Regions from separate parts of the Homo sapiens genome. Here regions 1 and 3 are each linked to region 2. Evidence: fine-mapped expression QTL. A gene starts in region 2. Each other region holds a variant in brackets. All regions are shown on one strand. Distances are between the middles of the regions. Region 1 has its middle 34 kb from the start of CEBPA. Region 2 holds the start of CEBPA (CCAAT enhancer binding protein alpha). Region 3 has its middle 23 kb from the start of SLC7A10.

Region 1 (5,634 bases), 34 kb after region 2:
CTAAAATGTTTACCATCTGGCCCTTTGCAGAAAAGGTTTGTTGCCTGGTATCCTAGGCTCTCCAGCCACCATGCACCCAGCTGTCGCCTCTGCTCCAGCGCTGTTTCCGGTTTATGATGTGGAGTGAACAGAACCTCCCTCAGAGCATGGCGGTGAGGACTCCAGGTTTACCGTCGGCTGCTGGGCGGCATGGGTATCCCCAGGTCATGCTTTCTTAACTCCAATACACAGAAGCTGAGCACTTGTAGAGGCTGCTCTGGGCCTGGTAGAGGGCTGGCCTGATACCCAAGGTCTGCCCCCCAAGGGACACACACGGAGTTGGGGCATGGAGACCATGAAGTTGGAGGGGCACAGAGGAGAGACAGGAGCCTGACCTGGAATGCACAGATGGCTCCCAGAGGGAGTGATACTCAAACTAAGTCTTCTTTTAATTTTTAAAAGACAGAGTCTCTCTCTGTTGGCCAGGCTGGAGTGCAGTGGCTCACTGCAGCCTTGAACCCCTGGGCTCAAACAGTCCTCCCACCTCCACCTCCCTAGTAGCTAGGACTACAGGCATGCACCACCATACCCAGCTTATTTTTTAATTTTTTGTAGAGATAGGGTCTCACTATGTTGCCCAGGCCAGTCTTGAACTCCTGGGCTCCAGCAATCCTCCCAATGCAGCCTCCCAAAATTCTGGGATTACAGGCATGAACCGCCACATCTGGAAGCTAAGTCTTAAAATATAAGCAGAAATTATCCAGGAGGAAGGAGCAGGGACAAGCCTTGCAAGTGGAGAGAACAGCTTCAGCAAAGCTCAGAGGCTGAGAGTGGCAGGTCTGGACCTGGTTGGTGGGGAACTTGTAGAACCAGGTGATGGGGGGCTGTGGGCAATGAGAGCTCACCCTTCATCACCAGCCCCACCCACCACCTGGGTTTGGCCCAGGCTGGCAAGGGTGCCTGCCGAAGGCAGATATTGGCATCTGGCAGGGTGAGGTGGGGCATTGAGGGCAGAAGAGGGGGTGCCTTCAGGACCCCACCGCTGGCCAGCAGGGACACTGCAATTGGAGGAGCCAGATGGTGGGCAGGGCCTGGGGGCTCATCCCAGCAGGGCTGGGGTGCCAGGGCTGGGGCCGCCTGGTCCTGCCCCTGCCCCTGGGGCAGCCGGCAGAGTCCAGAGATGAGGCAGGCTGCCACAGGCGGGTAGCTGGCAACAGAGGCCTATTCTTCAGGATTTAAAAAGTCTCAAAAGGCGTCCAACTTTCCTTCGTTAGATGCTCCGGGATGTTTCCCCGTCAGAGGCTGCTCAAGATACCGGGCTGATAAGGGCCCGATTGAAGGAAGCTTAATTATGGCCCCGAGATGTTGGGGTAAACAGTCGGGAGTGTTTGTTTTACCGCCTCCTCTCTGTGCTAATGGGGGCACAAGCTAGGTGCCAGCTAGGGGGACCCAGTGACCCCAGGCTTTGTGGGTTCCCCTCACTGTCTCCCCATGGAGCGGGCCTTGGGGAGGGAGGCCGCTGGCCAGAGTTCGGCATCTCTGCAGTGTGGGTGCCAGGCTCCACAACCTCCTGCCCATTTGGCCACAGGGTACTCACCTGTCCGTGACAAGGATGGACATCGGGCATTAAAGGAGCTGTCCGTGTTGGTGCCTGGCATGGAGTGAACGCTGGGTGAATTCTGGACAGCAGCGGCAGCCTGGGGCTAGGGGCAGCTGGTAGCAGGAGTTTCCCTGGCGCTGTCCTGACCTTGACCCAGGCCACAACCCCCCAGAGGATGCATCTGGCTCCTCAACTCCATCCCGGGACCCCTGGATGGGCAGGGAGGTAGACCGGGGCTCGGCCTCTCAGCACCGTCCCCCATTTACCCCCACACCCCATCCCAAGGCCAGGATGTTCCTGGGGTGCCCAAGCCTGGTAAAGCACCCCTCCTGTGGGCATCACAACTCCAGGGGATCAGGGGCCACCATCCTGTGTGCCCTCCCTGGCGTGTGCCCACCTCCTACGCCCTCCCCCAACACCCACCACAGGCTCCCCCTGAGTGAGGAGTCCCAGGAGTAAGGGGAGCCCACTCTGTCACCCTGCACTCCCTCGAGGGCCCAGGGGCTCCAAAGGGCACAGCTCAGCTTTATTTAAGGGAGCAGCTCTGCTCAGGGGAAGGGGGCAGGGGGAGTGGGAGGAAAAGGATGGTGCCCCCTAGACATGCGTAGAGGCACACTCACCCAGACACACACACACACACACACACACACACACACACCCTCACCATGTACTGCCCAGGCCGGGCCAGGCCTTCTATTCCCTCGGCATCCAGGAATCTGCAGCTCTGCTCCCTGGCAGGCAGGGGTCACCGGCTCAGGGGGTCACAGGCTCAGGGCACCCCCCTACCCCGTGTGTGTGTATTTGCTCATCCACACACATAGGCCAACACGGTGCCCGTAAGTGTCTGCACCATGTGCCTGGGAGGGAGCAGGAGGAAGGGGAGACCAGGCAATCCATATTTTGGGTCCCTTGCGTGAGGCGGGAAGGGCACAAGGGGGCCGTTTAGGGTCACTCCAGCAGGACCCAGGCCCTCCGTGGCCTGGGCAGGTGCTCACATGACAGGCTCCATCGGAGGAGCTGTGGGAGTCTCTTGGGAAAGGGCCACAGTTCACCCTTTGGCAGATGTCACCGCCCCCAGAGGCTCGGAGCCCCCCTCGCTCTGTGGCTGTCCTTCAGGCTGGGGTGACCAGCCCCCCGCCAGGCCTTCAGCTGAGACCAAGAAGCCATTTTGGTCCGTGATGAGAAGAGGAAGTTCCTGCAGCCCCAAAACAGAAACAGGAAGCTGGGAGGGGGGCACAGGGATAGGGAACGGGAAGGGGACGCAGGCACCCGGCAGATGCACCCCAAATATGGGGCCTTCCTGGGGCCCACAGCAGCAGCC[A/G]TGTCTGGGTGTCTCTGCCCAGTCCCAATGCTGTGGGCCTCATCTGGGCCCAGCTGTGCCCACCAGGAGGGCAGACTCCCTGGGGACCTCAGATGCCCGCCCGCTCCCTGCCTGAGTGGCTCAGTTGCCCAGGCTTATCTGGCTCTGACTGAGAGGGCTCTGTGAGTGGCTGGAACCCCTCTGTCCACCCAGATGTGCCTGGCCACGTGCCTCTCCTTGGCCCCCAAGCGTAGCCCTGTGGGATTCTCCGCAGCGCTGGCCTGACTCCTTGACTCAGCAAGTCCAGGTCACCCTCTGTCCCCACCTCTGACCGAGCCCCCTGGTCGTGAGTCTGTGCGGCCGCCTGTTGGGTTCTGCTGTTCGCCACTGAGTCCCAGCCCTGGCCGTTTCCCCAGCTGTGATGTGACAGGGTCCCAGGCCCTCACCCAAACTTGGTAACAACACTCAGGACTGCCTGCTCAGCAGAGGTGGAGCCTGGACTCTGTTCCCCGGGGCCCCCTGCCTCACACTGTGTCCTGACCAGCCTGCCCTTTGCAGACCCCTCCTGCTCTGTGAGATGAGAGATGGAGTGTCTGAGAAACGTGCATGGGTCCCAGCCCGTTGTGCCCCCAAGCGGAGGGACGACAGGATCTAGAACCACGCACCAACCTCCGGAAGTGGGGCAGCTCCCAGTTCACGCAAGGGCGAGCTAGGCTGGGGCCACGTGGAAGGCAGGACAGCAGCTCCCACTCAGGGTGGGCATTGCCTGTGGCTCCTCGCTGGGTCTGGAGGCTCCTTCAGGAAGACTCTGGGGGTGAGGGAGCGGGGGCGGGAGTCAAGGGACCAGAGAGGCACATGTCACCAATTTCAGTTCTGCCCCAGCTGGCCTGAGGCAGCTCGGGACTTCCCAGGGTGGAAGGATAGGTCCGGGGGCCAGGCTACTTGGAGGCAGGGCCAGGTCTTGAGGACCCCCTCCCCAGCCCAGCTGTCTGCCGGGGAGGCAGCTCTGGGTTCCTGGAGTGGGCTGGCTACGGAGGTGTGTGCCTCCCTGGCGGCCCTCATCTCTCCCGGAGCCCTAGAGCAGGTCTTTCTAAGACTTCCCACTCATCAGCCCCGGCCCAAGATTATCACTACAAAAGACGTCCTTGGCCCACTGTCCCCTCAAAATGAAAGCTTTAAGAACAGCTGCCCAGAGGTGTCTGAGAAAAACTCCAGGATGAGAGTGAGGGGTACCAGGCCGTCAGCTCTCCCCAGGCTGAAGGATGAGGTGGAAACCACGAAAGCCCCCAAAACAAAGCCATCTTCTCCACACCTCCAGGCTGTTCCCTAAAGAAGGAAAGCGGGGAATGGGGTGGGGAGGGCGAGTGGAGCCCCCGCCTCGGGCGGTCAGCACCGGCGTCAGCAGGGAAGCAGGCCCCTGGCCAGGGAGCGCATCTGACCGGACCGACCGTGTTCTTGGGAGATCAGTTGTGAAACTTGCATCAAACCCCCAAACCACAAAAACGGCCAGTTTTCCCAGCTCTGTTCTCATGCTTCTCAGACCAGCCGAGGAGTCTTCAGCATCTCCAGCCGAGAGAAGCCAGGCCAGCTGCCAGCGCCGGGGGAGGAGAAAACCCCAAGTGCCTGGAGACCCGAGCCCCAAGTTTGCCTGAAGCACCCTGCTCCCTTCAACGAGCCTGGGAATGTGAGGTCTGGAGAAAGGGTGAGGCCTGGGCCGGCTCCACTGCACCTGGAGCCGGGTGCAGTGGCTCACGCCTGTAATCCCAACACTTTGGGAGGCCAAGGTGGGAGGATCGCTTGAGCCCAGGAGTTCAAGCACAACGTGGGCAACATAGCAAGACCCTGTCTCTACAAAAAATACAAATACTAGCCCAGTATGGTGACACATGCCTGTAATTCCAGCTACTCAGGAGGCTGAGGTGGGAGGATCACTTGATCCCACTAGTCTGAGGCCAGCTTGGGCAACATAGTGAGACCCTATCTCTATAAAAAATTAGCCAGGCATAATGGTGCTCACCTGTGGTCCCAGCTACTCAGAAAGCTGAGGCAGGAGAATCACTGAGTCTGCTAGTTTGAGACCAGCTTGGGCAACATAGTGAGACCCCATCTCTATAAAAAGTTAGCCAGGCATGGTGGTGCATGCCCGTAGTCCCAGCTACACAGGAGGCTGGGGCGGGAGGATCACTGGAGCCCAGGAGTTTGAGGCTGCAGTGAGCTGTGTTCGTGCCACTGCACTCCAGCCTGGGCAACAAAGCAAGACCCTATAATTAATAAATAAATAAATAAATAAATAAATAAATAAATAAATGGAAAAAGAAAACTGGAAATCAGAATAGAAGGACCCAGAAGCTGCCAGGGCCACCTCAGAAAGAATTCTGGAACACTGTTGCCTTGGGAAGATAACATCTGGCTGATGGAAGGTCAGAGGCAGGTTACCAGGGAAAGACTCCTGTTTGAAAAGAAGGTCACCGAGGCATCCCTCGTGTCTTCCCACTGCATTTGGTGCACAGCACATGACTCTGGTTCTCTCTCATTCAGGGCCTGGTTATAGCAGAAAGTCTGGCTCTCACTGAGCAAGGACCCAGATGGGGACACTCAGAGAGGTGGGAAAGAATCTCCCCCACCCCGCCAAGGAGGGATGCAGCTGTGCTGTAAGTGATGGTTAAAGCCATCTTTAAGAGAGGCAGGGCGCCATGGCTCACTCTTCTAATACCAGTGCTTTAAGAGGCTGAGGCAGGAGAATTGCTTAAGGCCA
Region 2 (5,634 bases):
AAACATTTATTTCTCATGGTTCTGGAGGCTGGATGCCCAAGGCCAAAGCCAAGCTGCCAGCACCCTCAGGTTCTGGTGAGGGGCCTCTTCCCTGCTTGCAGACGGCCACCTCCTTTCTGTGCATGCCCATGACATTGTTCTTCTGATAAGGCCACCAATCCTATCAAATTAGGACCCTACCCATATGACATCATCTCACTTTAATGACTTCCTAAAAGCCTTATCTCCAAATACAGTCACATGGGGGTTAGGCCTTCAACATAGGAATTTGGGGCAGGGACACAGTTCAGTCCATAACACCTCCGCAGACAAATCTGATCTCTGCCTCCTCCACAGCGCCACCTTGTTCAGGGCAGGACTTCTCTTCATCACAGCACATCCACCCTTGATTCCCATTTGTGCCTCGTGTGCATTTGATGAATGAATGAAGTCCCATCCCCTACTCCTTCTGTCTCCTCCTTCCTCCCAGCAGCCTCTGTGTGACAACTTATCCGTCTCTCCCACTGTCCCAGTTCCCAGAGGCAGGAGCCACCCTCTCATGCATCCCTGGGCTCTCGGCACCCTGCACAGGGCAGGCCCGGGTGGGTGAATTCTGGTTCAATTGTAGGAGGACCTGTGGCCCCTGGGGTTGGCGAACCCCGGGCCGGGAGTCCCACTCCTTGCCATTGTCGCCCCCACACATTCATCAGCCCCCTATTGGACAAAGTCTTATTCCCATTACTGAGGTTTCTTCCAGTCCTACGGGGCAGAGTTCCCGATCTCTGGGCAGGCAACAGCAGCTGTGCAAAAAAGGCCAGACATCGCCTTCCTCCCACAACTCCACAGGCCGGGAACCGTGCATGTACAGTGGCGTTTCTTTGTTCCTAGGTAGGAAAAGCCATTAGTTTTAGCACCGCAGAAAAAAACGCAAATCGCTCTTGGTGCTTTTTGATTTCCGTCCAGGTCTCCCTCCACAGGTGAATGCTATATGAATGGGTCCTGCATTTGGCTCAGCAAGCAGCTCTCCGGCTCACATCGGGATATTTATTTAACGTATCTGGTTTTTACTCCCTCCCGTCCAAAAGCGTCAAGCTAAAAATATCTTGTTTATGAGCTCTGGACCGAAAACGAAGCAGTTGGGCTATTAATCACTGGGACTATGTTGAATAGGAACTTGATTAAAGCGCAGTGTGCGTTGCCCAGATGAAACTGCTTCTTTACTGCGATCGTCGTGGAAGCTCGGGGCTCTCCAGCGGTGTTTTTAGCTGTGCCCCCTCCGGGGCTCCTGGGCGGGTCGTGGCGCCTTGCCAGGCCTAAGGCCACTGTCGGTGAAGGGGGTCTTCCCTCACCTGTAGGCAAGCGCGCCTCTAGCCGGGACGCAGGCGGCGTCAGGCCTCAGCGCCAGTGGCGAGGGGCGGCGCGGGCAAGGACAGGAGACACTTGAGGGCTCCCAAGACTCCATCTGGGCCCAGCTGACGGTCCGTAGCCGCCACCCCGGCCCCGGTAAAGAATGCGAGGGACGCACGTGGCTGGGGGTCTCGGTGGCAAGCTCCTTCCCCCGCCGCGGTGAGAGCATTAGCTGCCGCACTCAAGGGGCCCCAGGGCCTGGCCGCCTCGGTCCCTAGGATCCCGGGGACTACAGCGCCCGGCGAACCACTGGGCAGAGTTCTCCCTGTGCGTGCTCGGACCTGGCAGCCCGGCGGCCTGGACACCCTCGCTCCCGCCGTTGGCGCCCACCTGAATGGGGAGGCGGGGGAGGAAGCGGTGGCTTCGGGCCTCGAGGGCTGCGGCCCCCGCCTCGGAATCCCGGCCCCAGAGTTAAGTTTGTCTCCTCCCTCGGTGCGCCCCTCCCCGTGCTCGCCCCGGCGTCCAGCTCCGCTAGTCTGGGGGGCCCCGCGGTCCCGCAGGAAAAAAAATCGGCGACTCCACGCCGGGTAACAGCGCCGGCCCCGCGCGCCTAGCAAGCCGCGCGCTCCGACCTGGAGAAGTAATTATAAAGAAAGTTTTCCAGCCCGGGCGGATCGACCGGCCAGGTCCTCCAGGCTCCCGGGCCGAGGCCGCCTCCGCTCCCCGCGGGGTCCTAGCGCCCTGCGCGGCGCCGCCCATGGGACCCCGGCGTCCTCCGAGAGGTACCTCTGCGCGGAATCACAGGGGTAGCCTGGAGATCAGAGCTAGGAGACGCAGAGCCACCGCGCTCAGGACCTCTCCGCGCGTCCCAAACGGCCCCCCACCGGCCCCAGCCCCGCTGCTCTGCGCTGCAGCCTCCCCGGGACGCGGGTCCGGGACAGGCCTGGTTCTGGCTTTGAAAGAGAATCCGCGCCCCAGCAGCTCAAGACCAAGACTCGCCCTCCGCCCCCCACCCCTACCCCGTGCAGCCTCGGGATACTCCTGGGCTCCCGGCCGTGGCTGGATACGGGCGCCTAGGGCAGGCAGGAGGAGGGGGCCCCCGCTACCGACCACGTGGGCGCGGGGGCGACGGCCGGGCCGGGGGCGGAGCTTGGAGCGAGCGCCGCGGCTCTGCTGGGCGCGCTGGAGGCGGTGGGCGTTGCGCCGCGGCCTGCCTGGGGAGCGCGGCGCTGTGCCGCGCTGGTTCGCCGCCCCATGCCGGCCGCGCGCTAGGACCCAGCAGGCGCCGCGCCGCCGCAGCCCGGGGACAGAGGCCGCCTCGGACTCTAGGGGGCGACGCGGCCTGCCGGGTATAAAAGCTGGGCCGGCGCGGGCCGGGCCATTCGCGACCCGGAGGTGCGCGGGCGCGGGCGAGCAGGGTCTCCGGGTGGGCGGCGGCGACGCCCCGCGCAGGCTGGAGGCCGCCGAGGCTCGCCATGCCGGGAGAACTCTAACTCCCCCATGGAGTCGGCCGACTTCTACGAGGCGGAGCCGCGGCCCCCGATGAGCAGCCACCTGCAGAGCCCCCCGCACGCGCCCAGCAGCGCCGCCTTCGGCTTTCCCCGGGGCGCGGGCCCCGCGCAGCCTCCCGCCCCACCTGCCGCCCCGGAGCCGCTGGGCGGCATCTGCGAGCACGAGACGTCCATCGACATCAGCGCCTACATCGACCCGGCCGCCTTCAACGACGAGTTCCTGGCCGACCTGTTCCAGCACAGCCGGCAGCAGGAGAAGGCCAAGGCGGCCGTGGGCCCCACGGGCGGCGGCGGCGGCGGCGACTTTGACTACCCGGGCGCGCCCGCGGGCCCCGGCGGCGCCGTCATGCCCGGGGGAGCGCACGGGCCCCCGCCCGGCTACGGCTGCGCGGCCGCCGGCTACCTGGACGGCAGGCTGGAGCCCCTGTACGAGCGCGTCGGGGCGCCGGCGCTGCGGCCGCTGGTGATCAAGCAGGAGCCCCGCGAGGAGGATGAAGCCAAGCAGCTGGCGCTGGCCGGCCTCTTCCCTTACCAGCCGCCGCCGCCGCCGCCGCCCTCGCACCCGCACCCGCACCCGCCGCCCGCGCACCTGGCCGCCCCGCACCTGCAGTTCCAGATCGCGCACTGCGGCCAGACCACCATGCACCTGCAGCCCGGTCACCCCACGCCGCCGCCCACGCCCGTGCCCAGCCCGCACCCCGCGCCCGCGCTCGGTGCCGCCGGCCTGCCGGGCCCTGGCAGCGCGCTCAAGGGGCTGGGCGCCGCGCACCCCGACCTCCGCGCGAGTGGCGGCAGCGGCGCGGGCAAGGCCAAGAAGTCGGTGGACAAGAACAGCAACGAGTACCGGGTGCGGCGCGAGCGCAACAACATCGCGGTGCGCAAGAGCCGCGACAAGGCCAAGCAGCGCAACGTGGAGACGCAGCAGAAGGTGCTGGAGCTGACCAGTGACAATGACCGCCTGCGCAAGCGGGTGGAACAGCTGAGCCGCGAACTGGACACGCTGCGGGGCATCTTCCGCCAGCTGCCAGAGAGCTCCTTGGTCAAGGCCATGGGCAACTGCGCGTGAGGCGCGCGGCTGTGGGACCGCCCTGGGCCAGCCTCCGGCGGGGACCCAGGGAGTGGTTTGGGGTCGCCGGATCTCGAGGCTTGCCCGAGCCGTGCGAGCCAGGACTAGGAGATTCCGGTGCCTCCTGAAAGCCTGGCCTGCTCCGCGTGTCCCCTCCCTTCCTCTGCGCCGGACTTGGTGCGTCTAAGATGAGGGGGCCAGGCGGTGGCTTCTCCCTGCGAGGAGGGGAGAATTCTTGGGGCTGAGCTGGGAGCCCGGCAACTCTAGTATTTAGGATAACCTTGTGCCTTGGAAATGCAAACTCACCGCTCCAATGCCTACTGAGTAGGGGGAGCAAATCGTGCCTTGTCATTTTATTTGGAGGTTTCCTGCCTCCTTCCCGAGGCTACAGCAGACCCCCATGAGAGAAGGAGGGGAGCAGGCCCGTGGCAGGAGGAGGGCTCAGGGAGCTGAGATCCCGACAAGCCCGCCAGCCCCAGCCGCTCCTCCACGCCTGTCCTTAGAAAGGGGTGGAAACATAGGGACTTGGGGCTTGGAACCTAAGGTTGTTCCCCTAGTTCTACATGAAGGTGGAGGGTCTCTAGTTCCACGCCTCTCCCACCTCCCTCCGCACACACCCCACCCCAGCCTGCTATAGGCTGGGCTTCCCCTTGGGGCGGAACTCACTGCGATGGGGGTCACCAGGTGACCAGTGGGAGCCCCCACCCCGAGTCACACCAGAAAGCTAGGTCGTGGGTCAGCTCTGAGGATGTATACCCCTGGTGGGAGAGGGAGACCTAGAGATCTGGCTGTGGGGCGGGCATGGGGGGTGAAGGGCCACTGGGACCCTCAGCCTTGTTTGTACTGTATGCCTTCAGCATTGCCTAGGAACACGAAGCACGATCAGTCCATCCCAGAGGGACCGGAGTTATGACAAGCTTTCCAAATATTTTGCTTTATCAGCCGATATCAACACTTGTATCTGGCCTCTGTGCCCCAGCAGTGCCTTGTGCAATGTGAATGTGCGCGTCTCTGCTAAACCACCATTTTATTTGGTTTTTGTTTTGTTTTGGTTTTGCTCGGATACTTGCCAAAATGAGACTCTCCGTCGGCAGCTGGGGGAAGGGTCTGAGACTCCCTTTCCTTTTGGTTTTGGGATTACTTTTGATCCTGGGGGACCAATGAGGTGAGGGGGGTTCTCCTTTGCCCTCAGCTTTCCCCAGCCCCTCCGGCCTGGGCTGCCCACAAGGCTTGTCCCCCAGAGGCCCTGGCTCCTGGTCGGGAAGGGAGGTGGCCTCCCGCCAACGCATCACTGGGGCTGGGAGCAGGGAAGGACGGCTTGGTTCTCTTCTTTTGGGGAGAACGTAGAGTCTCACTCTAGATGTTTTATGTATTATATCTATAATATAAACATATCAAAGTCAATGTCGGTGTCTTTTTAAAACCAGAAAGAAGCTACTTCCAAGGTTGTCTGTGGGCCAGGTCACATTTGTAAATAATACAGCATTTTCCCTGGCGGCAATCCTGACTTTCATGAGCTCTCCATCCATCCTGAGCCCCTCTTACCCTAAGGGGGTGACTTACTTCCCCCAGGCAAGACAAATAAATAGCAGAGGACAAGGCTCCAAATGGAGTATGTCCAGAGCCTGAAGGCAGTCTCTTGGGGTCAGGGGAGGGGGCTGAAGGGGTTACTGGGCTGAGGCCTTGGCGAGGCTTCTTATCTGCCCCGGGGAGGAGGAGAGGGAGTCCTCT
Region 3 (5,634 bases), 53 kb after region 2:
CTCCCGGGAGGGAGGACAGCACTGGGGCTTCAGAACCCCACTGCCTAATCTCTGCAGCCTCAGGGAAGAGCCCCACCGGACTAGGGAGAAGCGGCTCCTTCCAGGACCGTGCCCCACCCCCTCCAATCCCATCACAAGTAGCCCAGGAGTATTCATATCTTCACGTCTTCATGGCGCCTTGGGCACTTTGCAGAGGAAGAATCCGGCTGGAGTGGTGGAATGTCACACGGAGGCAGCAGGTCAGAGGTCCCCGGCGCCCTGATGGCCAAGATGGGGCTTCTGCCCTGACCAGCTCAGAGTCAGAGAACTGGGTCTGGCCTGGACGAAGAGCCTGGGGAAGGCGTCTCCATGGCCTGGAGCAGATGGTGGGTCTTGGCCCAGGCCAGGGCAGCCCCGATGGGCCAGGCCCCACACGGTGTGGGGGCCCCTTCATCTGAACTCCCTCATTCCAATCCAGGACATCAGTGAGGTGGGGCCCGCAGGCCACCCTAGGCCAGCGTGAGGGGAATATGGAGAGTCAAAGACGAGGGCCCCCTTCGTGCCCACCCAGACCCCAGAGGGTGCAGAGGGGGACTTGGCTCTAGAGGGGGCAGGAGGTTCCTCAGGGCAGCCCCAAGGAGGTGACAAGCCCCATGCTGGAGGCTTCAGGGGGCCGGCATCCAGCTCCCCGTCCATGAAGCCACCGCAGCCCTGCCCCCCGGGAATCCCCTGGAAGTGCTCGTTTGCCCTGCACATCTCCTAGGGCAAAGGGAGGGGCACCCAGCCCAGGAAGCCTGCCTGGAGCTCCAGCCTTGGCCAGCGGGGGCTGACGGGGCTGAGGGGTGGGGGAGGGGACGCATGGCTGAGGACCCTTGCAGGGTGGCTGACTGCGAGTCTATGTGGGTTTGTGCAGCCAACGAGGAGGCATGGTCCGTGAGTATAGGTGGACAGGGTCAGGGTGGCGTGTGTGTCTGCCTGTGTGTGTCTGTGTGTGTGGTGTGTGTTTGCTTGGTGTGTCTATTGAGTGTGGTGTGTGTGTTTATCTCTGTCTGTGAGTGTGGTGTGTGTGTCTGTATCTGTGTGTGTGGTGTGAGTGTGGTGTCTGTGTGTGGGGTGTGGGTGTGTGGTGTGTATCAGTCTCTGTGTGTGGCCTGTGTCTATCTGTGTCTGTGTGGTGTCTGTGTGAGGTGTGTGTCTATGAGTGTAGTGTGTGTTTATATGTGTGTGTTGTGTGTATGTGTGGTGTGTTTGTGTGTTTGGTGTCTGTATGCTGTGTGTGTGTCTGATGTGTATCTGTGTGTCTGTGTGTGTCTATGTCTATGTGTATCTGTCTACATCTGTCTGTGTGTGCCTCTGTGTGTGGTATGTGTGGTGTGTGTATCTGTGTCTGTGTGTGTGGTGTGTGTGTCTGCGTCTGTGTATGGTATGTATGTGGTGTGTATCTGTGTATCTGTGTGTGTGGTGTGTGATGTATGCATGTGTGTCTGTGTCTGTGTATGGTATGTATGTGGTGTGTATCTGTGTATCTGTGTGTGTGGTGTGTGATGTATGCATGTGTGTCTATGTGTATCTGTCTATGCATGTCTGTGTGTGCCTCTGTGTGTGTGGTGTGTGTGTCTATGTCTGTGTGTGTCTATGTCTGTGTGTGTTGTGTGTCTGTGTGTGGTATGTATGTGGTGTGTATCTGTGTGTGTGTGGTGTGTGTTATGTATCTGTGTGTCTGTGTGATATGTGTGTGAGGTACATATCTGTGTGTCTATGTCTGGTGTGTGTGTGGTGTGTATTTGTGTGGTTTGTGTGGTGTTTGGTGTGTGTGTTGTGCATCTGTGTGTCTGTGTGATATATGTGTGAGGTGTGTATCTGTGTCTCTGTGTGTGGTGTGTGCGTGTGGTGTGTATCTATGTGTGTGTGTGTGGTGTATGTGTGAGGTGTGTATCTGTGTGTCTGTGTGTGGTGTGTGCATGTGGTGTGTATCTGTGTGTGTGTGAGATGTGTGTGTGAGGTGTGTATCTGTGTGTCTGTGTGTGGTGTGTGCGTGTGGTGTGTATCTATGTGTGTGTGTGGTGTGTGTGTGAGGTGTGTATCTGTGTGTCTGTGTGTGGTGTGTGCATGTGGTGTGTATCTGTGTGTGTGTGTGATGTGTGTGTGAGGTGTGTATCTGTGTGTCTGTGTGTGGTGTGTATCTGTGTGTATCTGTGCGTGTCTGTGTGTGCCTGTGTGTTGGAGCATGGGTCTTCAGGAGCCCCCATCTGGGGCGGGGGTGTGGTGTGTTGTGCACAGCCCAGACCCCCTAGGACAGAGCCCAGACCCCCCAGGGCACAGCGAGGGGGACTAGGAAGTCCTCTAGGGCTCGTGGGACTAGAAGGAGGCTGAGACCCCCGGGTGGCACCGGGCCCCAGCCCTCGTGGGTGCCGGGCAGCGCGGGCACACGTCAGGACCCAGCTCCACGCCCTCTGCTCCTCACCTCCTCCTTCCCTCCAGATGTTGCCCAACAGCTGCGGGCTGGCCGCCCGGGGCGCACTTCCCCTCTCTGGCCAGCCAGGCAGGGGTCCTGGGCACCGGGTCGGAGGAGCTGGGTGCAGACCCGCAGCCTCCTGGGCACCCGCACAGTGCACTCTTCCGGCAGGATTTTCCTGGCAGCGGCTGGAATGTCCAGCCCCAGCTCCCAATGCGGTTCCATCTCCTGGGTCACCTCTGTGAGTCACCTCCCCTCTCCGAGGCTCAGTTCCCCGTCAGTGGCATGGTTGTCACACAGGCCCGGGTGGGGTCATCAAGTGCAAGGCTGAGCCCAAGGTAGGCAGAGAGGCTCCTTGGGCGCCCCC[C/T]GCCTGCTGCTTCTCCCACCTCCTCCTCTGCACCAGGCCCCCCGTGGCTGCTGGCTTTTCCCACCTGACTGGCCCAGGTCTCAAGTGGAGAAGAAACCAAGGCTCCCAGAAAGCCCAGAGGACTGCTTAGGGGAGAAGGGACGGCCAAGGTCATACCCGAGGCCAGTGTGAAATGTAGCCTTAGAATGACGTGTTGCTCTGTAGGGGCCTCCTGGACAATCCCCACCCCTGACACACACCCAGTGACCTCAGGGCCGGCTGCCCACACCTCCACCTGGCCTGGACTCGTCCAAACAGTCCCCTACCTGGGTTGGTCCCTCCTGGCTCCTGAGAAGGCCCCCGTAAGCAGAGAGGCGGGGCCCGAGGGGCTCTGCAGTGCGTCAGCACTCTGCCCTGACCCAGCATACCCAGAGGTCAAGGTCGAGTCTGATGCAGTCAGGAGAAGCGAGGACCCTGGAGTCAGGCGCACTGGAGCACACATGCGTGGCTCTGCCTCTGACTACCTTCTCTCAGCCTCAGTTTCCAGCATAGTCTCCACTCCAAGCACCCCTCACCTGCCTGTCCCATTTTAGTGGGGGGCCCTGACCATCCTCCCTCCTCTCCCTCTCCTTCCTCCTCCTGCTCCTCTTCTTCCCCTCCTCCTGGGACAGGGAAGTGTCTCACTGCTGGAGTCTCTGAGCCACTGCCCCTTGTCCTACCGCAGACCCAGTTGGTGCCAGCACAGGACTGCTGGAACCCATGGCCTTCAGAATGCCCCATGGGGGAGTGGAGGTGGAGGCATCTCTTCCTAGGAGCAGGAGCAAGGGAAGGCGGGCCAGGAAAGGGCCACATGGTGAGCTGACCTGGACACCAGAGGGGCAGGTCCTGTTGTCCTGGCCGGATTTCCTGAAGGCAGGGTCCCTGGTCAGTGGTGTCTGCCAGGGAGCGCAGGACTCCCGAGGCTGTATCCCAGGGTGGTTCGGGATGTGGGGCTCCCAACAGCACCACTGGGGTCCACCACGGTTTCTGCGAGACAGTGGGCTAGACCCTTATCTGGGGCAGGATGGGTGGGCAGGACAGGGACCCTCCCAGCTGAGCTGCAAGGAACAGGGCTCAGGAAGCAATCTGTACAGGCCCCTTTGCATTCTCAGGTCAGGGCTGCAAGGCTGCTGGGTCCCAGATCGATCCGGAGGGCCCAGAGCAGAAAGGGGTGGGCACCTTTGTGGGCCTTGGAGAGAGGATGGGAAGCCATCCTCTTCGCTGCTGGCTCTTCACTCATGGCTGGAGCTCCCAGGGCCCCTGGGCTCCAGAAGGAATCCCCGAATCCTTCATCACAGCCTGCTTGGCATAGGTGGCACATCCCCCACTGCATCCATCCCCCCCCCAACAACACCAACCACTGTGGCCCTGAGTGTGGAGTGAAGGGAAGAGGCCGGGCTGGTGGGGACTGATGGCCTCACCCTCTCCCTGCCCCTAACAGCCCAGGCCAGAGCCAGGGTGTCAGCCCCTCACCCACCCCAGAGACTAGAGCAAGGGTTGGTGGAAAGACCAACAGGTTCAGGGGTCACTGTGTGTGGCCAGGTCAGAGGTCAAAGATTTGCTGACAGCAGTCTTGGAGGTATTGATCTGGTGGGGGAGGGGGCAGAACTGTGTCCCCTGCCAGGGACTGTGGGCATGGGCTGGTGGTTAGCAAGCTGGATTCAGCAGAACCCACCACAGCTGGCCTCCTGGGCTGAGGGGATGGGGGTGTCAGCTGAGGACCAGTTGTCATGCTGAAAATGAGCTCAGGGCCAGCCCCGGGCTGACACTCCAGGATGGCCAGGGGACAACAGGGATCAGGAGGCCTCTGAGGCTCTCACAGGGTCGAGATGACTGAGGAATGAGGGGTTCAGAAACCCCAGCCTGCCAGCAGGGACAGAAGCCAGGAGGGAGCATCTTCAAAAGGGCAGGAGGCTATGGCTGGGCTGGCTTCCTGTGGGGGGGGGTGCCGACTGCAGCAAGCCTGGAAGGCCTCTCCCAGGCTGACCTGCTTCAGGGATGACCCCGGGTCCCTTCAATGCCTGACAGTGACCACAGCACCCACCTCGGCCCTCTGCCCAGTTTGCTTCTATGGGATACAGGAACCATCCCAGTGCCCCCCACCCAGAAAGATGCAGCCAGGGAGTCCAGCAAAGGCGCCATCCCCTGCCTCTGCCCAGAGCAGCTCCTGGGGGTGGTAGGACATTCCTGCTGCCCCTTCCTCCTCCCATACACATATGCCAACCAGTCCAGACAGGGGAGAAGCCTGGCCCAGAAGGGAGGAGCTGCCAGGACTGGGGAGGCAGGGAAGAGGCCCCTCCCCCAGCTGATCTCACCCCAAACACATTGGATGCAAAGGCGTTTCTCCATTCCTGGAGCCTGCCTGGGGAGGCAGAGTGGGGAGTGTTTGTCTGTGTGAGTGTGTGCACATATGTGATTTGTGCACACATCCCTGTGCATTTGCACGTGTGTGCATTCATGCGCTTGTTAGTGCATGTGCTTGCATGTGCATGTTATTTGTGTGTGTGTTCCTTTGTGCATGGAGTACATGTGTGAACATGTGTTCATGCACATGTGTATTTGTGTGTGCCTGTGGACACGTGTGTGCACGTTTGCACATACTCACATGTGTTTGGCCCCAGGTCTGAGGCTGGGCTGGCCCCCTTCCAGGTGCTGACTGGAGAGACACTGCAGCTGTCCCTTGGAATGGCTTGGCCAGGACTTAGCCAGAAACTCTTACCAGTCCCCATGGTCCACACCCTGGCAGCTGTCCTGAAACTGAAGGCTTCTGATCAGCCCTAGCCAGCTGGCGGCGTGGCCAGAGGGCAGCTCTGTC

What was found. PIP is the estimated chance that this variant, and not a neighbour inherited with it, causes the effect.
Region 1: its variant is fine-mapped to the expression of CEBPA in whole blood (TOPMed, PIP above 0.99).
Region 3: its variant is fine-mapped to the expression of CEBPA in whole blood (INTERVAL, PIP above 0.99).

What each region holds. Positions count from the first base shown.
Region 1 is chr19:33,265,934-33,271,567 of GRCh38, reverse strand. No RefSeq gene overlaps it. Among named protein-coding and RNA genes, the nearest start is that of CEBPA, 34 kb to the left of the region's middle. The variant A/G (reference allele first, on the strand shown) is at 2,901.
Region 2 is chr19:33,299,607-33,305,240 of GRCh38, reverse strand. CEBPA (CCAAT enhancer binding protein alpha) reads left to right here and starts at 2,707. Exons shown (of 1, transcript NM_004364.5): 1 at 2,707-5,307. The coding sequence starts at 2,827. The coding sequence ends at 3,903. CEBPA-DT (CEBPA divergent transcript) reads right to left here and starts at 2,420. Exons shown (of 1, transcript NR_026887.2): 1 at 184-2,420. RefSeq lists silencers at 1,967-2,226, 2,307-2,876.
Region 3 is chr19:33,246,291-33,251,924 of GRCh38, reverse strand. No RefSeq gene overlaps it. Among named protein-coding and RNA genes, the nearest start is that of SLC7A10, 23 kb to the right of the region's middle. RefSeq lists enhancers at 1-694, 695-1,578, 2,783-3,284 and a silencer at 2,342-2,391. The variant C/T (reference allele first, on the strand shown) is at 2,802.